Regions from separate parts of the Homo sapiens genome. Here region 2 is linked to region 1. Evidence: fine-mapped expression QTL. A gene starts in region 1. The other region holds a variant in brackets. All regions are shown on one strand. Distances are between the middles of the regions.

Region 1 (8,271 bases):
TGGTGGGTGTGTGAAGAGGGAAGGGGGCATGGTTGGTAAAGCTGCTGGCATCCCAGACCCATTTAGGGGATGGAGCTGGGAGGCTTCCACCCCCTTTGTGTCCTGAGGTGCAGCTTCATGCTCTGGAACCTCAGTCTATGCCCACCCAGGCTGCGAGGTCGTGGAGACCCTGGGCCTCACCTGTCTCAGCGGCCCTCTGGCCCTGGGTCTCCATCTGTCTTGTGTTATTTTCACAGGTGGCCTTCCTAGTGGAGTCCCTCTCTCTAAGGCTGAATCCATGTGCACCAACTCAGGCCCTTACTAAGATTCAGGTGACATCAGACAGATCACCTTAAGCACTCTGGGACAGTCTCTCGGCTGAAAACAGTCATAGCATTGAGAGGGTTATCTCCGGGATTCATGAACGTCACACAGGTTGGCAAGGTGCTTCCATAGTGTCGTGTTCATAGTAAACTGTCATGACCAGCCATTAAGGTTTACGTGGAACACAGAAGAGAAAAAGAGGAAGAGAAAGGAATCTTTGGTCTGAGTGACCTGCATTTATCATACCGTGCCATGCAGCCCCGGCAGGGAATGCCACTGTGTCTGGGAAGATGCCACTCACCTTTAATTCTGCCAGGCTTTTCCTTCCTTTTTCAACCTTCCTGCTCTACAGGGAAAGCAGAGGGTTGGGCTTTTCAAAAACGCAGTGAGAGCATGTGCACCAACTGCCTCTGTTTAGAGCCTTTCGATCATTTCTGGGAACAAGGTGTGCTATAAATAAGTGCATCATTTGGGAAGTCCCGCCCAGCTTTTGGGTCTCCTTCTGCATTTGCTGATTCAGTGGGACCACCATTACCTTCATGTCCTGCTCACTGCCTCCCAAGAGAAGGGAGGCCCTGGGCCCTGCTACTCCAGCTCTGGAAATCTTCCACTCTTTTCAAAGTGGGCGGGGAGGGAAGGAGGAAGAGGTCTTCTGGGTTTTGGTGGAACATAAGCAAGGACTCTGGGATTTTCTTATAATGTCCTGAATCTCCCAGCTCCAGGGGTGCTGCACACCCTCTCCTCTCTGGAGGGCCCCTCTCCCACTGTCTACTCCAGACAATCTCTGCCTCTGAGTCCTTCCAGATACCTGAGCATGTCAGACCCCAGAGCACCCACTTTTGGAGGACACTCACGTGGGCTGTGGTCCCTGTGCGGCCATTTCCTACTTTCAGGGTCTTGGGGTGTTATGTGCCGAGCCTCAGTTTCATCATCTGTCAAATGGGTGAATCTGCCACGCCTGCCTTTCACAGATTTAGTAAGAGTTGGCAAGAGAACTTCCATGGAGCCCTGAGTGTCCACACCTGGTGCTATTGTAAGATTATTTTCTGTCTTTGGAGCACTTCCTCATGGGACACCTGAGGCAGGTTAACTTACAGGGCGTTGTTCAGTTTCCTGGTTTGCAAAATGGGAGCGACAAAGGTTTCTATTAGGGCTGCTGTGAGGATGAAATGGCTCAGTACATTCTAGTTATTCATATTATTATCATCTGTCTCCAATGTTTTTAGGTTGTCAGTAAGGTGAGGGGCTAAACCCTTCATCTTTCCACCGCAGCTCTTCTCAAACATGCTACACGCGGTTGAATCATGCATACGTATGTAACACACACACAAGTCGTACATGCGGTAACTGTCTTTACGTTTGGAAAAGTGATGCAGATGTTTGGAAAGCGACACAGATTACTGTTAACTCAGGTTTCTGCTTTTTGCTTTCCAGTGAGGAAGGTTGAGTGGATGGCTTGGGGCGCAGTGGGAGGAGCTCTTGTCTCTCACCCGTCAGCCTTTTTATCTGAGGCCGTTTTCATCACCAATGCCTGGTCTCTGATCTGCCTCCCTGAGGAACGCACATGCGCTTTGTCCCAGGACTGGGAAGGAGGCTGACTACCCTCATCCCACGCTGAACCCCGTTTCTGCTCAAGCCTCAGAGTTGGAAACTCCAGTCCTTCTGGAGCATCCGGGCAGGCCAGAGATCTCAGGCTTTTCTTGCAGGCTGGGAGGTGAGCCCTCACCAAGTGACTTCTCAGATGACGCGCTTTTCTGGGATCCGAGGCTTATGAATCTACAGGGAACATTCAGTGTCCCCATCTGGCTCTCTAGGACACTCGTTCTAGAGGCCCGCCCGGCCGTCTCCCAGCTCGGCTGCCCCCCGCAGGCCCTTCGCTCTGGCCTCAGCCAACAGAGCCTCCGCACGAGGGCGCATCCGCTCTCGGACTCCTAGGGCTTGAGCCTGCACTCCCCGGAAATATGGAAATTGCCCCAGCGCGGGGTTCCTTCTAACAGAGGCCCCTCCTAGGCTCAGGTTACAAACTCATCAATCACCCGGGAGCCCGGGATTCAAACCCGCTCTGGAGCGGGGCTGGGGCGCAAAGCCGGAGTTCTACAGCTGAAACCTCCCGGAGACTTTGCACACTTCTGCAAACGCGCGGGGCTGGGTGTGCGTCTCCAAACCGCGACTAGAGCGTGGGCATTTGTTTTTTGTTTTTTGGTTTTTCTCTCTCTCTCCTAATCTCTCTCTGTCTCTTTCTCGCTCTCTTTTTTTTTTTTTTTTTTTTGCTTTACTATCGGTGCCCCGCCCACCAGCCTCCCGTGTCTCCGCCCACGTCCCGCCCATTACCAAATCGGGCAGTATTTATCACCGTACAAATTCAAGCTCGGATTTGCCTTAGAGTTTAGAAGACGCGCCGGGACGGCGGGAGTTTCGGTAGAGGCAGGGATGTGCGTGCTGGACTTCGGGTGCCGCGTGGGGAGCTCCAGGAGGGGCTGTGGGATAGGAAGGTGGGGAAAGGGTTGCATAGTGACACCGGTTTATCTCTCGGTCTGGGTGTGTTGGAGCGAGCGCCGAGGCTGGAGAAGGAACTGGATCCAAACTTGAGCTTGCTGGGGGCGCGCGGCCCCGGAGAGGTTGGGTGACCCCAGAGACTGTGGGGCCTGCGGGTTGCAAAGGCGCTGGCATTGAGGTTTCTTCACCCCAAGTTTGAAAGGGGTACGCGGGTGAGAGCGAGTGGTAACGAAAAGACAAAGCCTCGCCCCTCCTGGCCAGAGGTTCACCCCCAGGACCTAGGCGGGCGCGGCCGGGCTGCTCGCTGGACCCACGTTAGAGGAGCAGGGCCGCGGAGGGAGGCCCGAGGTGTCCCAGGGACTGGCCTGTCGCTCCCGCAGGCAGTGCCGGTACCCAGGCCGGTTTTTCCACCCTTCCTGCGACTTCCTTTTTGGTATTTTAAATTTACCCGCTCCCCTGCGGTCTACTTATTCCATGGGCTGGATACCCAGGAACCCCAAACACACGGGTTATTTCTGATTTTCTCATTTTGAAAAAGGATGCCCGCCACGTTTCCGTGTTCAGAGGCTACCTGGGCACTCACATCCTCAGCCGGGTGTGGCAGCGGCAGACACTCCCCCTACCCCTGTAAGTGCCCTCGGTGCCTCTCCCTCCTTCCTGGCCCACTGGCAGTGGGCCATTTCTACACCCACCTGCCATCCTCCCCCTTCCCTCATCTCTTTGACATGCTCACACGATTTGCTCAATGAGACGCCAGTTATCCGAATGTGTGTGTGTGTGTGTGGGTGTGTGTGTGACAGTGTGTGTGTGTTTTAATATTCAGGGGGTGGTCATAAACAGGAAGTAGTCACACTAGGTGCCTCTACCCTTACCCTAACCGGTGGAGTGGGGAGGAGAGGCCCCCTTCGAAATCAGCATGATTCAGGATTTTTTATTCAAACAGTGATGTGGGAAAATGTAAAATGAGATGGGGGTGGAGGGCCGCGTACACCCCAGGGTGGGTGGATACAGGGAGAGCAAGCAGGCTTCCCAAATGCCTAATGTAATCACGGGCCAGCTGCATGCACTTGTAAAGTTGTTATAACCCCCTCCTTGTTATAAACAGGAAAGCCCAGAATATAAAGCTGGAGACCCACATTCACAAATACCAGGCCTCCCGCGCCAGCTGCCACGGCCTCCTTTTATGGTGTTCCTCTCTTGCAACCTTGGCCCCATCAGGAGGACCTTACTTTTGCCCCCGGTTCTCTAAATGGGTTTATTTTGAAACCTTCCTCAATGGAGCTGTGGACCATGAGCTCTTCCCCAGGCCCCCAGTGCCTTAGGCCTTCCCTTCCAGAGAGACTGGGCTCCCAGAGTCCACTTTCCCTCCGATTTCCGGAGAGCCCTGGAAGGGAGGGTGTGGGAGAGCAGGTCCCTAGAGAGTGCCACCTCCTACTGGGTCTGCCACCTGTTTTTCCAGGGAGGGCCGCATCCCCTTCTCAGCAGACACTCAGGCTTCTTAGATACTCTCCCTGCCCCAATCTAAAAGGTTCCTAGGACCTCAGAAAGTGTTTTACTAGACTGTGGCATCTCGATATCTCCGGTTAAGCCTGGGAGAAGAAAAGACCTTTTGTGGGAGGCCCTGGCGTTATGGGGCTCCCCCAGGCCAGCGTAAAACTCATCCCTGCACACCCACCCCCATCTCCACCTCTCCTTCCTGGCTCAGCAGACCCTGCTCTGAGCCACCGCAGTCTACATCCTGCCTCACTGACTGTGTGTGCTTACAGCGTCAAGGGGTGGACGTGATATTTCAAACATCAGATCAGTGCGTTTATATATTGGGTGCCCGGAAATTTTTCCAAATAAACACAGCTTGATTCAACTTGGGTGGGCGGACTTATCAACAGACTAATTCTATAAACAAATGAAGGAATAGCCCCAAAACCGATTGGCTGGTATCAAAAAGACACGTGGAGGGAAAAGCTTGGAGTTTTTCAGCAATGAAATTTTAATTAATGTGGGTGGGCTGAGAACACAAGGACTGTTTATCATAGACAATTTATTTTCCAGGGCTAAGTCAACATATAACAGCAAACTTACAACAATTATTTAACATTTTTAAAGCCATGAAGAAGGGACAGAGCACGGAGCGGCCGGGGAGAGCGGCAGAGCCAGAGGCAGAGGCACGGCTGGCTCCCCGGGAGGGCCCTTGCGGCGCGGGGCGCAGTGCCTAGGCCGCCCGGGTCTCCTGCGTTGCGGGGAGCGCAGCGCAGGCTCTCGCTTGCCATGAGTCACCTCTTCGATCCCCGGCTGCCTGCCCTGGCCGCCTCGCCCATGCTGTATCTGTACGGTCCCGAGAGACCCGGCCTCCCTCTGGCCTTCGCCCCCGCGGCTGCTCTAGCTGCCTCGGGCCGGGCCGAGACCCCGCAGAAGCCTCCCTACAGCTACATCGCGCTCATCGCCATGGCGATCCAGGACGCGCCCGAGCAGAGGGTCACGCTCAACGGCATCTACCAGTTCATCATGGACCGCTTCCCCTTCTACCACGACAACCGGCAGGGCTGGCAGAACAGCATCCGCCACAACCTCTCGCTCAACGACTGCTTCGTCAAGGTGCCCCGCGAGAAAGGGCGGCCGGGCAAGGGCAGCTACTGGACGCTGGACCCCCGCTGCCTGGACATGTTTGAGAACGGCAACTACCGGCGCCGGAAGAGGAAGCCCAAGCCGGGCCCCGGGGCCCCGGAGGCCAAGAGGCCCCGCGCCGAGACGCACCAGCGCAGCGCGGAGGCGCAGCCGGAGGCGGGGAGCGGGGCAGGGGGCTCGGGCCCCGCAATCTCCCGCCTGCAGGCAGCGCCCGCGGGCCCCTCGCCCCTCCTGGACGGCCCCTCTCCGCCGGCGCCCCTCCACTGGCCGGGGACCGCGTCCCCGAACGAGGACGCTGGTGACGCTGCCCAGGGCGCAGCGGCCGTGGCGGTCGGCCAGGCAGCGCGCACAGGGGACGGCCCGGGGTCCCCTCTGCGCCCCGCCTCCCGCAGCTCTCCGAAGAGCTCCGACAAGTCCAAGAGCTTCAGCATAGACAGCATCCTGGCGGGAAAGCAGGGCCAGAAGCCGCCTTCAGGGGACGAACTCCTAGGGGGTGCCAAGCCTGGGCCCGGCGGCCGTCTGGGTGCCTCGCTCCTGGCCGCCTCCTCCAGCCTCCGTCCGCCTTTCAACGCTTCCCTGATGCTCGACCCGCATGTCCAGGGCGGCTTTTACCAGCTCGGGATCCCCTTCCTCTCTTATTTCCCCCTGCAGGTTCCCGACACGGTACTCCACTTCCAGTAAAGCAAACAATGGCACGGTTCTTCTCCCGGCCCAGCCTGAGCCTCCGCTGAGCGAAAGGCCACAGCTCCCACCGGCGGAGGATTTTAAAATGATCTTTGCCTGGGTCGGCCTGTGGGTTCAGGGAAGTGTTACCAACCATTGCGCGCAGGTGGGCGCGCTCGCCTGCCTTCTCCGAAGCAAACTTTTCCCAGCAACTGGGAGCAGCTACGGAGACTTAAAAGATCCCCGCGGGGTCGTGGGCACCGCACGTGGGCCCTGCAGGGACCTCCACCGCGGGAGATTCCTTGACGTTTGACCTGTCTAATGGAGTGTGGTCTTCAGCCGCCCACCGCAGGTCCTGCGAGTCCCGGGCATGCAAGGGCCCGCAGACCACCCAAGGCAGGCCTTACAGGTGCAGTTGAGGTCCTTTCGACCGGGGACCCCCGTATGACCGTCGCCTGCTTCGCTGTTGCCGTGTGGCTCAGGCCTTGGTTTTGAGCCCATCTGGGTGGTGGGTGGTCACAGCTGGGTTTGTTCCTGACTTGAAGTTGTGGAGGTGCCGGGGGTGACCCCGGGTTTTCAGGTTTTCTGAGAGATGTAGGGCCCGATGAGGATTTATGACCAATGTTCAGCTATAGAAGCTGATAACCACCCAGAGCAATAACACTTTTATTTTAAACAGAGACTTTTTCTCTTAATTTCTTTCTGGGTAGTAAAAAGAACATGTTTCATTCTTTGCATAAATACTTGACTCTAAGCATTGACCTTTGAAAACGCTTGTATTAACAATTTTTATTAAGAAAGTGCACTCTATATAACATCTTCTTGCATTACGATAGCTCATTAGCCAATACACATGCAGCTATGTAAGCCACAACAGCAGACGTCCTATCCTTTTGCTTTTGTTTTTAAGGGATCAAAATATTTCAAGGGATACCATGAGGAAGGGTGTGAGGGGAAGGGGATATGCCTTGGACAATGTCAGAGTTTTGATTTCCATGTTTTTTCAAGATCCAGGCTTGGTGGTCGCTATATTTTTCAGAAACAGATAATGAAAGACTACATTTAATTTAAAAAGTTGGGTGAAACAACCAAAAGCAGATGCAGAGAGAGAGAGGGATGAATGCGGGGGAAGAATAAGGGGACGTGCTGGTGTCCGCTGGAAGGGGCCTCTCTGGGCCCCAGAGGACCTGAGGTTTGATGGCAGGAATCTCCCAGACACTCCTGGCCCCCGCACCCCCTGCAGCCGCCCGCTCTTCCCTCCCAGCCCTGCCAGGCAGGCCTGGAGGCTGATACTAAATCAAAACCTTAAAGAGGTGACTGGCAGTCTGGGGAGGGGAGAAGAGGTCTGCAACGAAAATCTAATTAAGAACATTGAGATGTTCACAACCAAGTTCAGCTTGCAGCTTCCGGGGAAATGCAACCGACCTCTATGCCATCTCTAGCTGGGTAATCTTCGAGGCCCTGAAATGCAATTTTCTGAACCTCTAAGTCACTTTTATTTTATGTCATGTGATAAAGACACAAGTAGTCACGCACTATTGGAAATAGGTTGGGAGGGAGGTCTTTAAGATCGCTTTTAAAATAGTTTCCAGGACTTGTCTAAAAATGATGACAAACTTTGAATCCAGAGGGCCTGTTGGTCAATGTGTTGGAAAGGACATTTCAGGCCGGCAGAGTAATTGGATAATTCACAGGCATAGAGGTGACTTTTGGAAAATTCATTCTCCTATCCATGCTGAACCAGGCTTCCACGACTGGGTTCTACCCAGGCCAGTGGGAAGACTCTGGGAAACTTCAGGCCAGCCTTGATTGGAAGAACTTCCAGGAGGAGCCATTGCTGAGATCCAGGCTCACTGTGATTCACTGAAAATGTAGCGAAAGGGCTGTCACTGGATATTTTGCTATCCCAAACTCTCAGCCTCTGTGAATAAAGTTGTTTTTTCATTAACCTCTCAGTGACTGGTTCAGTGGATTACTGGAGGGAAATAAACAAACAGTGTAATAAGAAAGAGGAGACTGGGATTATATCTGGGAGTCGTGTTAGCATCTCAGGAGGCTCTGGCTTCTGAGGGGTAAACACACAGATGGAGGGGAAGGAGTGGAGAGGATGCCGGGCCCAGGAAGCTGCCTCCATATCAGAAAGCACGATGAGTTAATTCTGCCGTATTGAATCGGTTTTTAATCTTT
Region 2 (16,700 bases), 130 kb after region 1:
TGTTCCCGATGCCTTTGTTCTGTGTGATGTCATGGTCCCATAGCTTAGTGCTGATGAACAAATATCTTTTTATTTGGAGGCCCCTGAAAATGTGTTTTTTGTTTTGTTTTGTTTTGTTTCTCTTTTGAGACGGAGTCTTGCTCTGTCGCCCAGGCTGGAGTGCAGTGGCGTGATCTTGGCTCACTGCAAGCTCTGCCTCCCGGGTTCACGCCATTCTCCTGCCTCAGCCTCCCCAGTAGCTGGGACGACAGGCACCTGCCACCACGCCCGGCTAACTTTTGTATTTTTAGTAGAGATGGGGTTTTACCGTGTTAGCCTGGATGGTCTCTATCTCCTGACCTTGTGATCCATCTGCCTTGGCCTCCCAAAGTGCTGGGATTACAGGCGTGAGCCACCGTGCCCAGCCGAAAATGTCTTACTCCTTGGCCAGCTTGTAATCTCCACAACAAAAAGATGTAACTGTAGGAGATGACAGAAACTCCAGGACTCAGAGCAGGGTGCAAAGGTTACCAGGGGATATTCAGGGGATGATCGTAACCCACGGGGCCCGCCAACACCCTGACAGGTGGCCTCTGTGGGTTTGCGCATTGTAGGCAGACCTGTGGACAGGTGAAGAGGGCCAGGTTACTTCTCCTGCTCAGCGAGACTTCTCAGGGGTGCTCTTCGAGGGCCTCCGCTGTTTCTGGCTATAATGTTCTAGAGTTTGCACGTGTGCGGTATCACACGCACACATACACACACCATGCTCACATGCAGCACACCCCAACACACACCCTCTTTGTACAGTGAGCTCATTGTGAGTTGGTTGCCTTTCTGAATACTGAGCTCAACAGGGTTTTTACGAGGTCAGGTTTAGGGGATTTTATGTAACAAAATAAACTGAACATTGATAGAGTGAAATATCTTTCTTTAAAAGGCTGGGCTTAAAATGGCAAACGAAAACAAGACCGCACATCCTCAAAGTGGCAGAAGGAGACAGAAAATCAGCTTCCTGCATTTCTTGATGAATTCAGCTGCAGGACCTCAAACAGAGAGGATGAGCTTTTCTTTTCTTCTACATTTTTGTCTTCTCTTTTTAAAAATAAGAATGAATCATGCTGAGAGAGATTTCTCTACCAAGAGCTCTTCTACTGGATGGATTCCAAAGGAATGTCAACTCGAAATCTGGGCTCACTGGTGAGAAGGGGGCTGGTTGGGTGACAGCCTCCCATCCCATCCTTTTTCTTCCATTCCACCCGCCTGGGCAATTGCATGTGGTTCCAGCCCTTGGTCCTGGAGAAGAGCCCAGGGCGGTGTCAGGGGAGCTGCCATCAAACCTGCAGCCTCGTTCGCCGGTCTTCACCAGCCGTGCTGCCCGCCCCACCTGTGAAAGCAGGGGAGTGAGGCTGCCGGGAGGATGAAATGCGACGGCTCACAGAGGTCGCAGCCCACGCCCAGCTGCGGGAGGGCCTGTCGAGTCCCCGATCAGGAAGGCCCACGTCCAGATGCCTTGGAGATGCCCCGGGTTTTCATCTTGGAGGCATCTCAGATGTAAAATGGCCAAACGGGCCCTCTGGGCTCTGCCCAGGCCTGCTCTTCCTCTCCTCCTCCATGGCTCTGAAAAGGGCACCCCACCCTCCACCTCCCAGAGTTGTCTTTGTTGAACTCCCCCGTCCAGCCCTCCTTGAGTGTGGACCGTGCAGCCTTCCATGGGCACCCAAGAAGCTCCACAGCCTCCACACCTGAGCTAAGCTCCATCCTCTCCTTCCGGAGGACAGAGCCAGCTGCTTCCCTCGTCCCCCGCCACCTGCAGTCCCCGTCCCACCGTGGCCTGGGTCATGGCTTTCCATCACCCTTGGAATCGAATCCAGAGGGCTTCTCTGGGCTCCCACAGACGTGCACGATCCAGGACCTGCTCCCTTGCTCCGCTTTTCCCCTTCCCCTTCCCGCCCCCCATGGCCACCCTGGCCCTCTCTGTCCTCCTGACCTTCCGCAGGGGTTCCTGCACCCATGGTGTTCCCCCCTGTCTGGCAAGCTCTTCCCTGGTAGCTTCTTCTGTCCTCAGAGGGGTCTTTCCTGAGCAGCCAATCGAAGCCTCACCCCATAGTCTCCCTGAGTTGATTTCCCGTGGTTCTCAGCGCCCTCCGAGGCCATCGCACTAATTTCCTCATTACCCACCCCCACCCTCACAAGCTGGGAGGGCACGGACCCGCCCCATTCTGTTCCCTGATGTACCCTCTGTGCACGCACCCTGCGGGCATGCAGCAGGTGCTCGGAAACGCCGATGGAATGAACCAGCGCGCATCACAGAAAGAGCTAAGGGACCTCCACACCTGCTCCTGTCGGAAGACGGTTGGGCGGCAGACACAAAAGGAGGCAGAGACCCCACCGCAGCCTCGGGTCCTGTTCCTCAGGCCAGGACGCCCCACTCCGGGAGACCATATGGAAGACCGGTGGCCAGCACTTTGGATGCGGTTGAAGACAGATGTGCTTTTCGCGTAAGTGCTTTGAGCGCAGAGTTTCCCTTCAAGCCCTGACTCCCTCTTTGGTACAATGGGGAATCGTGACCGCCTTCTGGGGTGAGGCTCAGGTGATCCTCAAGTCTTGGATACCTACAGATTCAGGGATCTGCAGGCCGGCCACAGCCAGCAGGCCGGGGTTGTTCCCAGCACGGCCGCCCGCATTCTGCCTCCTCCAGAGTGAGTATCCGGGCAGTTTCCTGGGGAGACCTGGGTTCCCATTTGTATCACAATGACAACAGCTAGTTTCTGGCACCTAAAGCAGGACCACAGCTTCATAAAACTACCTCTTCGATAATAGAGAGGAGAGAGGGATAAATACTTCAAAATGGTGTTCCAGGACAAGATGACCAACAGGTTTTGAGAACGGAGGTTTCAGAAACTATCTGAGCCAGGCACGGTGGCTTACACTTACAATCTCAGCACTTCGGGGAGCTGAGGTGGGAGGATCACTCGAGCCCAGGTGTTCAAGATCACCCGGGGCAATAACAAGACCTCAGCTTTACTAAAAATTGTAAAAATATTACCCAGGCATGGTGGCACATGCCTGTCATCCCAGCTTCTCAGGAGGCTGAGGTGGCAGGATCACTTGAACCCAGAAGGTTGAGGTTGTAGTGAGCTGAGATTGCACCACTGCATTCCAGCCTGGGCAACAGAGTGAGACCTTGTCTCGAAAAAAAATAAAAAAAAAAAAACAAGCAAAGATTCCATGTCACACCGATTAGGACGGCTGTTCTGAAAGAGGCAGGGAATAACACATGTTGGCAAGGACGCAGAGAGGACAGAATCCTTGTGCACAGTTGGCGGGAAAGGAAAATAGTGCAGCCACAGTGAAAAACACTCTGAGGTTCCTCAAAAAATTAGACAGTTGCCATATGACCCAGCAATTCCACTCTTAGGTATATACCTACAGGAGCTAAAAGCAGAGTCTTGGGATTTTTTTTTTCTTTTTCTTTTTCTTTTTTTTTTTTTTTTGCAATGGAGTCTCACTCTGTTGACCAGGCTGGAGTGCAGCAGCATGATCTCAGCTCACTGCAACCTCTGCCACCTGAGTTCAACTGATCCTCCTGCCTCAGCCTCCTGAGTAGCTGGGACTGCAGGTGTGTACCACCAGGCCTGGCTGATTTTTTGTATTTTTAGTAGAGACGGGGTTTCACCATGTTGGCCAGGATGGTCTCGAACGCCTGACCTCAAATGATCCACCTGCCTCACCCTCCCAAAGTGCTGGGATTACAAGTGTGAACCACTGCACCTGGACTTGGAGAGATTTTTGCATACCCACATTCAGAGCAGCACAATTCACAATAGCTAAAAGGTGGAAGCAATCCAAGTATCCGTTGACAGATAAATGAGTCAACAAAATGTGGTCCATCCATAGAGTGGAATATTACGCGGCCTTAAAAAAGACGGAAATCCTGACCCATGCTCCAACATAGATGAGCCCTGAGGGCATTATGCTCAGTGAAATAAGCCAGGCACACACACCCACACACACACACTCCCACACCCCCACACCCACACACACACACCCCCACACACACCCCCACACCCACACACCCACACACCACACACACACACCCCCACACCCACCCCACACACCCACACACCCACACACCACACACACACCCACACACACCCATACCCACACCCACACACACCCACACACCCACACCCACACCCCACACACACTCACACCCCCCACACACCCACACACCCACACACACACCCACACACCCCCACACACATAACCACACACCCAGACACACCTCCCCACACACACACACCCACACACACACACCCACACACACACACACAATACTGTACAACTGCACATATACGAGGTGCCTAGAGTAGTCAGATTCATGGAGACAGAAAGAATGGTGGGTGCCAGGGCTGGGAGAGGATGCATGGGAAGTGTTGACTTAGCGTTTAATGGGACAGAATTTCAGTTTGGGAAGATAGAAAAATTCTGGAGATGGATGGTAGTGATGGATACAAAACAATATGAATAAAAATGGTTTAAACGGTGATAACAAGTATATTTTGCTGCAATTATATAAAAGTCTGGCAGCCACTAGCACCTGTGTAGGGTGTCACCCTTGCCACCTTCCACGCGTGTGGAGCCCGCCTTGCAGAGGAGGAGTTATGAAAGGAGACAGGTAGATGGGGCAGGTGCTGGGTGCAGGGCCAGGCTGGGCCGGGCCCTGCCTCTGTTCCATCTGTCTGCAGCCCAGGTGCCATCTTCAGAAAGCCCAAGGTCACCCCGGGGACAGGCTCCTCCACACAGAGTCTTGCAGCTGCCAAGGCCTCACCCCCAGAGACACTGGGAAGATAAGAAGAGGTGTAACTTCACCTGAAAGCTGCCAGGGCTCAGACGCACTTCAAAGGCAAGACTCTGGGAGGAGGCCCCGGAGCAGGAAGAGGCGTGAAGGGGATGATCGTGTTCCACCAGAGTGAAAAGGGCATTGCAGGGAGAAGCTGATGGGTTCATGGGGATGGTAACTGTCTCCCTGGAAGCCCCAAGAGGGTGAGGTGAGCTCTCAGAGCTCAGGGGAGGTGAGTGAGAAGGGCCCCTCAAACCCCAAAATCCAACAGCGGAAGCAGCAGGGCGGCAATGCAAGGGCCCCAGGTGGAAAGTGTGCAGCCTGCCTCCTGGAAAGGGCATGCAGTGCCCCGGGAATTCCACGCACATTCCAGGAAAAAAGAATGAGGATGAGAATCAAAATCCCCCAGCGGTAACTCTTCCTGCAAAGAAGTAAACCCCCAAATTTCCTGAAGGTGCCCCTCGCCGCCAAACTCAATGCCTTCTCACTAAATGGCAAAGGAAAGTAGGATTTCTTCTCTTGGATTGGATCTTAGTTTTTTAAAAATGCACCTTTGGAAACAAACTCTAAAAGCATCTCAGGAGGGCCCACTCCTCCCGGGAAGCAATCCTGATTTTACCAGGGATGCTCGCAAGACTGCAGGGCCCTATTGCTCCTGCTGCCCCGACCCCTGACCAGCGGGGACAGGAGCTGGTGGGCACCTTCAGGAAGTCCAGGTGGGGGAGCCCAAGGTGCTGGGATGTGAGGGACAGACAATCACTGCCCTCATGGAGCTGTTCACACAGCGGATGAGGTTGACACAATCCAGAGGGAGCACCCAGTAATGGGGGTCCCGAGTTCAGAGAGCAGAGGGCTTCCTGGTGGAGGTGACACTGAAGCCTAGAGCGGAAGGGTGGTAATGACCAGATGAGGAGCTCACTCTCTGTTTCGGGGGTGAGTGTTGAGAGAGGGAGAACAGCAGAGGTAGAGGTGAGATGGGGTTGGGGTGTAGTAGGGCCCACTGATGGCTTCAAACTGCATGGGTCTTGAGGACCCAGGGAAGACTTGAATGGTTTAAACAAAGAAGAGAATTGGTGTTGGATCATTCAAAGCCATGCTTAACTCTGTGAAACACTAAGTGGTTTAACCTTTCTTTAAACCCTGCTGTGGCCAGGCGCGGTGGCTCACACCTGTAATCCCAGCACTGTGGGAGGCCGATGCGAGTGGATCACCTGAGGTCACAAGTTTGATTCCAGCCTGACCAACGTGGTGAAACCCAGTCTCTACTACAAATACAAAAATTAGTCAGGCATGGTGGTATGCGCCTGTAATCCCAGCTACTTGGGAGGCTGAGACATGAGAATCACTTGAACCTGGGAGGCTGAGGTTGCAGTGAGCTGAGATTGTGCCACTGCACTCCAGCCTGGGCGATAGAGCGAGACTCCATCTCAAAATAAATAAATAAATCAACCTTTGCTGAGCTGCAGGACGTGGACTGGGTGGGGGTGGGAGTCAGGGAGCCCCGTCCAAACTGTGGGATGGTCCTGGACAAGGCGATGCAGCATGGCCCAGGGTCCTGGCAGTGAGATACAGAGGTGGACCAGACTGAGAGAGGCTTGGGGGAGGGGCTTCATGAGTCTTCCCTAAAGTGCCTGATAGGGTTTGGCTGTGTCCCCACCCAAATCTCATCTTACATTGTAGCTCCCGTAATCCTCATGTGTCATGGGAGGGACCCAGTGGGAGGTAATTAAATCATGGGGGTGGGTTTTTCCCTTGCTGTTCTCATGACAGTGAATAAGTCTCACGAGATCTGATGGTTTTATAAAGCACAGCTCCTCTGCACATGCTCTCTTGCCTGCCGCCATGTAAGACATGCTTTTGCTCCTCCTTTGCCTTTTGCCATGATTGTGAGGCCTCCCCAGCCATGTGGAACTGTGAGTCCGTTAAACCTCTTTTTCTTTATAAATTACCCAGTCTTGGGTATTTCTTCATAGCAGTATGAAAATGGACTAATATATGCCTTATCGGAATTTTAAATTTTTTTTGGCCAATGTCTGCATTCTTTCTTAGAAAATGGGCCAATTTTCTAAAATATCATGTCTTAAAAAATGAGTCATGAATTCTGGAAGAAAAGGGAGGCGATGTGGGCAAAAAGAACACGCTAAGACCTAGGTTCGAGTCCCATCTCTTCTGCCAGAGCTTTTGTAAGGATGGTGCTTGGGAATGTCGAATTAATCACATCACCTCTCCTCTAGGATAGAAAACCACAGAGCACAGATTCGAGGAACCACGAGGATCAACGTCCAGAACCCTCTTTGTTGCTGGGGAACCTAGATCTTGATCTGTAATGGCCCTGACCTCACCAGCCAGCGGCAGGCACACACGCCCCTGCATCCTCCGACCGTGGATGCCCCTGGCTGTGTGTTAAGGTGGAACTCCTGGCCCAGGGAGCACCAGGCTGACCTGCCAGATAAGCCACCCCTCCTTCCCCATGGGAAGAAGCCTGTGAAGCCTGAGGGTGGCTGGAGGCCAGTGCTGCAATTCCTAGCGTGTGTGCTCAAGAGAGGAAAGTGGACATCCCTGCATGGGAGAACAGACGGAGTGGTAGGGTCCCCAAATAGTTGTGCCTTACCTCGGCGATTCTGATTTGGCATCTGTGTGTAGCAGGCTCCAGGGGGCATTTTGGGGGTACAGCCATGTAGGTATGAATGGGGTGGTTCAGAGAGCCGTGGCTGCAGCAGGAGCTTGGCCCTGTGACCGGGGAAGCTCCTCACCTTTCTCATCCTGTGTCCTTAGGAAGACAAGGTGAGTGAAGTTTGACCTTCCCATTGTGAAGGCCAAGGTCAGTTTGTAACCCACTGAGTCTGAGGCAGCACTGGGGGCTGAACAGACCTGTGGGAGGCAGTGGGAGAAGTAGGGGCTGCGCTCCAGAGCCAAGTGGCAGCTCGGGAGGACTCTGGCTCATCGGTGTCAGCTGATGGCTCCCCAGATGGAGAGACAGTCTGGGCCTGGAGTTGGGCAGCCTGGATTCACATCCCACCTCCGCCCCATACAGGAACCACTGTAGGAGCTGGGGGCGGGTGATTTCACCCTGCTGGCCTCAGTTTCCCCAACTGTAAGTGAGGAATAAGAGCAACATCCACTTCCTGGAGTTGTGAGGAGCACATGAGCTGCACGCGGAGTGGGCCTCGACAGCTATCAACCCCGTAGTTCCCCTTATTGATCAGCACTGTGCGGAATATTCTGGAATCGAGAGATATTAGAGTGTAGGAGGAAGTGTGCAGCCCGGCGTGGCCTCGTCAATTTTGAGTGGGTGCCACAAGCACCTCTGATTTAACTCTGCGAAACACTAAGGGGTACAACCTTTCTTTAAATAAACTCCCTACTCCACTGCGGCATGCTCCTGAATCCGTCCTGGCTTCGAGCAGAACCAAGTGAGCGCCGTCCATTCATGCCCTTCGTGGAGTGCGTGACTGCAGTGATACCTCGAAGTGTCAGATGTGAGCGTAGGGCTTCGAGAGACAGCTGCTGACATCCTGGCTCGATAAAGACGCTGCCTTTTGGGTTACTCAGTTACTGGAATTTTCCACCTTCTGCCAAAGCCTGTCAAGTCAGGACACATCTCATTTGAAGAAAGCAAGGGTTTTACAGGAAAACGCCAACGCAGCCTTTCATGGGCATAAACAAGGGCCACTGTGCTCTGGCATACCTGTGGACCGGCGACGTGGCCTGAGAGCCATGCGTGTTCACAGTGCTCCCTCTTTTCACGCACAGAAACTTACTGGAAATCCAGATATGAAACAGTGCAATCCCAAGGAGAGGCTCGTGGATTGCAGGCCGTCTACACCAAATGCGCTCTGCACGGCCCCGTGACGGAAACCCAGGCTGCTGAGTCAGACGTGACCGGAGAAGACAGCCAGCGTTCAGGGACCCGATATTCAGGGAGTTGTGGGCTCTAAGACTCGTTCTCCTGGGTCGGAGGATTCTGGCAAATGACTTCCACCAACGCCATTTGAATTTCCCATGTCTTTTATCACATCTCATACTCTACTTTCTGTCATTAGATTCTTATTCCACGGCTGAATGAGACACTTCTACACTGAAGTGTATGGACTCTGATTTCGGAAGGCCAAGTACAAAGCAGACAGGCTTTATGTGAGCAACATAAACACTGATGTTCCTTAGGGTCCCATTTTCAC[T/C]GAAGCTCACCCTTCTCCTCCCAGCCATCCCTGCTTTCTGGACATTTTGAAGGCCATGATTGAAAGCTGCAGCCACTACCAAAGAGAAATGTTTCACTTAACGATGTCCCAGCGAAAAGTGGTGGGAAATCTAGGTACAGTGTTAACACGACTTTTAACGCTCTCTCGTGAGAGGCACAGACACAGTGAGCCCAGGTGAGTTCAGGGCCCTAATGATGTCACCAAGGCCCAGGTGTGTCCAGACTCGGTGTGACGGCACTTCGTCCTCAGGCTATAGGAAGGGGCCGCAGACTCGAGCATCTCAACCTCTCAAGACAACATCCAAAGCCAGCGTGGGGCAGGGGGCCTGTCTTTGCATTTTCCGGAAGGAGACTTCCCCTTATGTCGACTTGGGCCAAAAGACCCTTCCTCAGTGGACCCCTGGACCCCACCATAGGTGCCGTGGTAGCTCCCCTGCCGTGCCTCTGGACCCCTGTGACTGGATGCGTTACCTGGCCTCCTGCCATGGGTGCTGTGGTAGCTCCTGGAAGAGGAGCATGTTGCATTTGCAGCCTGTGTCACGGGAGGCCGACTGTCTGTGTGCAAGAACGGAAGGGCTGGCTCTGGGGAGACGACTCATGCCATCTGCTGTGGGAAGCCCCTGGTGGGGATTCTGATTGGAAAGCTGTGGCTAGACCCCAGGGCCATCTGAGGACAGGGACAATAGAGCTGGGCTGAGATAGGCTGTCTGTATTTCTCACAGTGTTCTAACAAGTCAGGACCAGACCTGGAATCCGGGTCTCCCATTTGCTGACTTCTTGTCAGCAATTCCCATATTTTCCCCAATTCGGTTGACTGCAATTCCCATAAAACCTACAATATAATCATAGTGGAGCATTGTGAAAAGCAATTCAGGGAATTGCTTCCTCTCTTCCTTCCTTCCTTCCTTTCTTCCTTCCTTCTTTCCTTCCTCCTTTCTTCCCTCCTCTCCTCTATCCATTCTTCTCACCTCTCTCCCTCCATCTAATTCTTTCAATGTTTAGAGTAGCCATTTGACCCAGTTCTGCCCAATGAGACATAAAAAGTCTGTTTCTGGGGAATATTTTTCCTCCTTATGTAAGGGAGAGACATTCAAAGAGAAGAAGTCTCAGAAGAGGACGTGATGCTTGGAGCTGCAGCAGCCATGTTGCAACAATGAGGCAAGATCCCTGGGGATGAAACGTTCTGAGCCTTGTGCTGGGGACACACAATGAAAAACAGGCACTTTCTGTTCTCCTAGACTCCAAATTCAGTGCAAGAGACAGAGATAAACAGCAATTACAATCTTGTGTGAGTCACTGTAGGGGAAGTACTGGGAGGGAAATCAGGGGCAGTTTTGGGGGCGGTGAGGTCCATGCAGAAGCTCGGGGAGGAGGAGATGGTAGCAAGAGAAGAGCGGGCAGAGGGCACAGCCTGAACAGAAGTGGCATCAAGCAAGCTGACTTCATGTTGGGGGAGTGGCAATGCCTTCAGGGTGGACGCAAGGGAGACCCTTCGGGGAGAAGCAGTGAGCAGTGAAGCTGGAGAGAAGCAGGGACTGGATGCGGAGGACGGTGGTTCCCCACTCCTTCAGGATCAAGCCCCACTCTGCTCTTTTCTTCCACCCATGCACTGGATATGTGCATCCCAGCCCCAGGCCCAAATCTTTAAGGTGCAACAACATAAACTTGTCTGAATGTTAAGGTCTGTTTTCATTTAACCGATCCTTCTGAAAAGTGTAAAGTTAGAGATCTGATGCAATGATATTCCGTTTGAAAAATCCCGAAAGGCTAATGATAGGGTTTGGCTCCGAGTCCCCACCCAAATCTCGCCTTGAATTGTAATAATCCCCACGTGTCAAGGGCAGAGCCAGGTGGGGATCACTGAATCATGGGGGTGGTTTCAGCCATGCGGTTCTCGTGATAGTGAGTGAGTTCTCACGAGATCTGATGGTTTTAAAAGCATTGTCTGGCATTTTCTCTGCTGGCGCTTCTTCTCTTGCCTGCTGCCGTGCAAGACACGCCTTTCACCTTCCGCCGTGATCATGAGGCCTCCCTAGCTACGTGGAACTGTGAGTCCATTAAACCTCTTTTTCTTTATAAATTACCCAATCTCGGGTATGTGTTTATCCGCAGCGTGAAAACGGACTAATACAGCTTCTTACAAATGCACTCACAGAGCAGAGTGCCTGCCCCCCGAGACGGCCTGGTAGCGGCTCCTACGGAGTCCGAGGTGGCCTTTCTGCCTGTGCCTCCCCACCAGGGCCCTCCGTAAGCACTGACTGGGGTTGGGCAGAGGGCGCTGCAGCCTCGCTCGTCACCCAAGGCGGGCAGAGCCTCCTGGCCTCTGATAGCGGCTCTGCACTCCTGCGTCCTGTTCTCCATGGTCTGGGGATGACCAGAGGAGGACGACCAGCTCCTCCCTGGCCACCCCTCCTGGCCTCTCCCTTGCTAAGGAAGGTCAGGCCGTCCAAGGCGGGTAGGGAGATGCATCAGAACTCATGGGCCCCTTGCTGGAGCTGACAGAGCCATCGCTCTTGGAGGCAGCTGATGATCCAGGCAGCCCTGTGCCACCACCACGCCACGCTCAGCACTCCTGCAGCCACCAGCAAGCAGGGCTCATGGCAGAAAAACTCCCAGAACACACCGTTGACAATTGGAGAAGAAAACGCCTGAAAGAGCACCGGTCATGGACAGGGCCAGGGACCAGTCTCCAAACACTTTTCCTGTGCCAAGGTGGGGCAGAGGAGGCTGGAGGGGTGCTCAGAGCTGTCCAAAGGAACAAAGGGATGGGGACAGGTTGGCAGAGCCCCCTCCCGCATGGCGTCATCTGCTGCCCCTTCCTTCAGATGGAGCAGGAAGGGGGCAGTGAAGGAAGTGGAAACTGCACACCGCACACCAACTCAGCTTTTTGCTGCTTGGAGCTCAATTCTTTGCTAACTTTGGATATCCCAGAAGAGAGGGGTTTTTTGTCAAGACATTAAAGACATTATTTTTGAAGGGAAACAAGACAGGCTATTCATGAACAGCAGGGAAGCAGCCTGTTTCGGGGCCCGGCACTCCTGCTGTGCCCGTTAATTTGATTTAATGAGATGATGAGGCTGACTTGGGGCATCCATTCTCGGCCACTGGGCCCCCACCTTGGTGCTCCGGAGAGGGCATTAACGCGAGGAACAGCCAAACTTTGAAGCTTTATTTTGTTTCCTCTCTCCCCTCTCCCACCTTCTGCCAATTAACACGGGGGAGAAATTACATCCAGGTGCAGCCTGTCGCTGGCAACTGCCAGCTACAGCCATCTTCCTCCCTAAGGGTGAGGGGAAGCAGTGAGGCTGGAGATGGTGGCTTCAGGGCCCAGAAAGGTGCCAGGTGTGCCACTAACCTGAGTGCCTGATGTCTGAGCCATGTGCCCTGGACATCTGGCGTGCTCTCGGGCCACGGGGTTGCTCCACTCAAGGGCCTTTGTATCTGCTGGTCCTGCAGTGGGAATGCTCTCCCTCCAGAACTCTGTGTGGCTGCCTACTTCTTGTCATCCAGATCTGAGCTCAGACGGTACCATCTTCCAGAGGCCTCCCCTGAACACCCACATCTAAACAGAGTCTCCCCAAAATGAATCACCTTCCATCCCTCACCTGGGATTTATTTGTGTGTTCTTTTTTCTCCATGGCACTTGTCATTACTGAACACACAGTATTTGCTTGGCTGTTTCCTCACTTGTTTCCTGACTCCCACATTAGACTGTTGACTACACACGAGCCGAGACTGTGCATATTCGTTCGCTTCCGTATCCCCAGTACCTGGAGCACCACCAAGCACACAGTAGGAGCTTAATAAGCACGCACTGGGAAAATACATGAACGAGCAACACTGATTGCACCTGTGCATGCCACACGCCAGGCTCTGTGTTAGATTCCGCACACACACGCACATGTGCATACAACCACAGGCACACACACGTGTCTGTCATGGACTTACCTAGCTATTTGCTGAACTAACCCTCACAGCAGCTCTTTGAAGAAAAGATCATAAATCCCCTTTTACAGATGGCAGAGCTGAGGCTCAGAGAGAGGCTATATGACTTCTCAGTCACAGCTGGGGGTTCAGGTCTGGGGCCAGGGCTTCCTGATGCCAACATTCCCCTCCTCCCTCCCGAGCACCCTGCTTCCCCTCCCGTGGGTGCTGTGGCAGCTCACCTGCCCTGCCCCTGGACCCCCGCAGCTGGGTGCATTACCTGGGGCTACGTCCGTGTTGCCCTGGGCAGGAGTTTCCTTGGCGGGGGCAGGTCTCCTCACAGGGCGACCACGAGGGCACCTGGCAGCTGGTCTCCTGCTGTAAGAGTCATCTCATTGGTCACTCATCCCATGTGTGAGTGCCCATGGTGGCCTCTGTACCACATGGCTCTGGGCACTGGTCCATGAGGAAAACCCTGGACAAGACCTGCTGCACGGCAAGAGTAGACGTACATCACGTGCGTCATGTCGCCTTGTGTCTTGGTGACAACCCACTGACCCACTTTACACACATGTACCGGCACATACATATATACACTTGCACAGATGTACACACAAACCGTGTACACACACATGCACATATGTTCACACATAGAATGCACATCACATATTTGCCCACACAACACACATATACACACATGCACAGATATACACATATACATATACGCATGTCTGCACACCACACACACATATACCACATACCACACACACCACATAACACACACATACATGCACAAAATGCACACACGTACACACACATATACACATATACACCCACATGCACCTCACGGCTCACTAAAAGACAAGTGGATCCCCTGTTCCACACTCCTGAGCAGGGAGCTGAAACCCCAGGGTCTGGCTCTGATGCCCTCTAGGCTGGGGAACCTTGGTCCGTCCACTGTGACCACGAGCTTTCGGTGCTGGTTGCTGGACCCGCGGTCATGACCCTGAAGGGAAGAGTGAGGTGTGAGGATGCTGGTGCCTCCCAGAGAGCCTGGCTGCGGTGCTGGCGTGGCTGGACGTGGTCGGCTGCTGACGAGATCTCCCGCCTCGGAGGCAGGTCCTGACTACAGGGTTTCCCACGAGAGCCACATGCAGAGGCCCAGGGGGGTCTGGGGCTTCCCTCCTTATAAGCTGTAGGGAACAAGGCCAGGCAGCCCAGCGCTGGCATCACGAGAGGTGAGTGACAGCAGGACCTGCTTGCGAGGTGCTGGGAGGATTTGCCAAGACGGCTCCTAAGGGGCCTGCTCGCAGCAACTGCTCTGTTGGCGCTGGCCATTATTCCCGCGGCTTCCTTCAGGGGAACCTCTGAGCGGCCAAGCCAGCCCCATCCTGCTGGCCTCAGCCCCAAGAGTACTCTACAGACAGGTCATGCCCAAAAGCCCAGGAGGCTCTGAGGCATCCCTACTTGCCACGGGGGGTGCCGAGCCACAATGAGCCCAAGGACCCAGTGGGCTTGGGAACACCCGGCTTTGAGGGGCAGAGGCCAGGGCAGCCCTGTTTGCTCCCCTTTCCATGGTGCACATCCCAAATGGACGCAGGATTTAGACAGGACCCTTTTCTGTGTGCTTAGCAGCTCACAAGCTCAAAGTACCCCCTCAGCCCACCCTTTGGGTCCCCATCCTGTCTTGGTCTGTTGAGAAAGCACCTCAGGTCCTGGCATCTTCAGAGAGGCATGACTGACAGTTCCAGGCCTTCCAGCTACTGATGGGACCCAACACTTCATTGTAAGAGAACGAGTCATGCTTCCAGTGGCTCTGCTTCTCTAATTTCTGTCTCTTGGAGCTGTAGAGCTGCTCAGAATTTAAATCACAAAAGTGTTATTGTCTCCCTGGCTTTAGAAAATCATCTGTTGGATTATTGCATTCTTTTCCGTCTTTTGTGTGTGTGTATGGAGAATAGGGTCTTGCTATGTTGTGTAGGCTGGATTTGAACTCCTTGGCTCAAGCGATCCTCTTGCGTTTGCCTCCCTAAGTGCTGGGATTACAGGCGTGAGCCACCATGCCTTGCTGTGCTTTCTTTTTTGGTCAATATTTGAGCAGGACAAGCCCTCCTGGTTCCACTGGCCAGCCTTGCCAGACACCCCGAAGATGCTGGCAGGGCTGTGGGCACCTCCCCTTTCACTGCTGTGCTCAGGACCCAGCTTTGTGTCTGGGGCCTTTGGGCCACTGCCTTCCCTCTGCTTTTGGGGAATGAATGAATTTCCAGTGGACAGCGACAGGTCCTGAAACTGAGTCTAGCCTCTGTGTCATGTCCCGTGGGATAACTGGGTGATGGTTAGAATGGTGCTGATGGAGAGTATTGAAATGCCCATGCCTGGGTCTTCAGACGGGGGCTGGGGGTTGAGTGATGAGTCAAGGGGGCCATGGAGAGCCAGCCCAGGGCAGGGAGGATCATGGACTCAGTGTGGATGCACTGTGGGGCCCTGGGCACATTACTCAGCCTCTTTGGGTCTGTAAAGTGGGAGTAATCCCAGGGTTGCCATGAGAACACGTTGTCTTAAATACCATAGGGGGATGGGGCCAACGTGCACAGGCCCTGCTGAAGGCACTGCTTTCATAGCACTTTAACTGGCCCACCACATGTGTCCAGCCTGCACTTGCTGTTCCTCCTGAAGACCAACACGTGGGCTTCCGTGTCTGACTTCTTTCACTCGGCGCAATGTTTTTGAGGCTCATGGTGTGTGGTGGGGGTACCCGCGCTTCCTTCCTTCCGTGGCTGAGGAACATTCCCTTGTATAAAAAGACCATATTTTGTTCATCATTGATGGATATTTAGGCTGTTCTCACTTTTGGCTATTGTGAACAAGCTGCCGTGGACATTTGTTTACAAGTTTGCAAAACGTTATTTGTTTTATTTTTATTTTTGCATGGAAGTTCATTTTTATTTCTCCTGAGTAGATAGGTGGGAGTGACTCACTGGGTCCCAGGGTTGCTCCAGGTTGTGGAGGACCTGCCATACTCTTTTCCAAAGTGGCTGCACCAAATCATATGCCCAAGTGGTTATCTTCCGATGAGCATTCTTCCCTCTTTTCTCCTTACTTGTATCTTCTAAAATTTCTGCAGTGCTTATCTCCTACTTAGGTTTTTTTTTTCTCTGAAGGTCAGGTTTCCTCACAGAGCAGTGGCACCGGAGATAAGGCACAGCTGGTCACACCACCTGGGATGTTCTGGGACTTCAGAAGTGGCCTCATGCTTAGAGGTGATGGGGACACTTCTAAGGGGGGACACTGTAAAGGAGGGGGGCTCTGGGTAGGTGGAGAGTGAAGGCACATGTGGGGATTCACGGGCTCAATGGGAATTAGTGTCAACCACAGGCTCCGGATCCAGTAGAGACTTTCCACAGTTCAGCTTGAATGGCTGCTATAAAGTGAGGCTCACTCCATTTTAAAATTTGTTTTATACTATTTTAATGGTTTCAGCTTTTATTTTAGATTCAGGGGTACATGTGCAGTTTAGCTACATAGGAATATTGCATGATGCTGAGGTTTGGGGTATAGATGGTCCCATTACCCAGGTAGCGAACACAGCACCCAGTAGATCGTTTTTCAGCCCTGTCTCCCTCCTCCCCTCCCATGTCTATTAGTCCCAGTGTTTATCATTCCCATCTTTATGTCCATGTGTGCTCAGTGCTCGGCTCCCACTTAGAAGTGAGAACATGGAGTATTTGGTATCCCGTTCCTGTGTCAATTTGCTCA

What was found.
Region 2: its variant is fine-mapped to the expression of FOXL1 in minor salivary gland (GTEx, PIP 0.95).

What each region holds. Positions count from the first base shown.
Region 1 is chr16:86,573,660-86,581,930 of GRCh38, forward strand. It overlaps FOXL1 (forkhead box L1), which reads left to right and starts at 4,890. Exons shown (of 1, transcript NM_005250.3): 1 at 4,890-8,271. The coding sequence starts at 5,065. The coding sequence ends at 6,102. RefSeq lists an enhancer at 5,750-6,371.
Region 2 is chr16:86,699,140-86,715,839 of GRCh38, forward strand. No RefSeq gene overlaps it. Among named protein-coding and RNA genes, the nearest start is that of LINC02189, 14 kb to the right of the region's middle. RefSeq lists a silencer at 543-730 and an enhancer at 992-1,899. The variant T/C (reference allele first, on the strand shown) is at 9,001.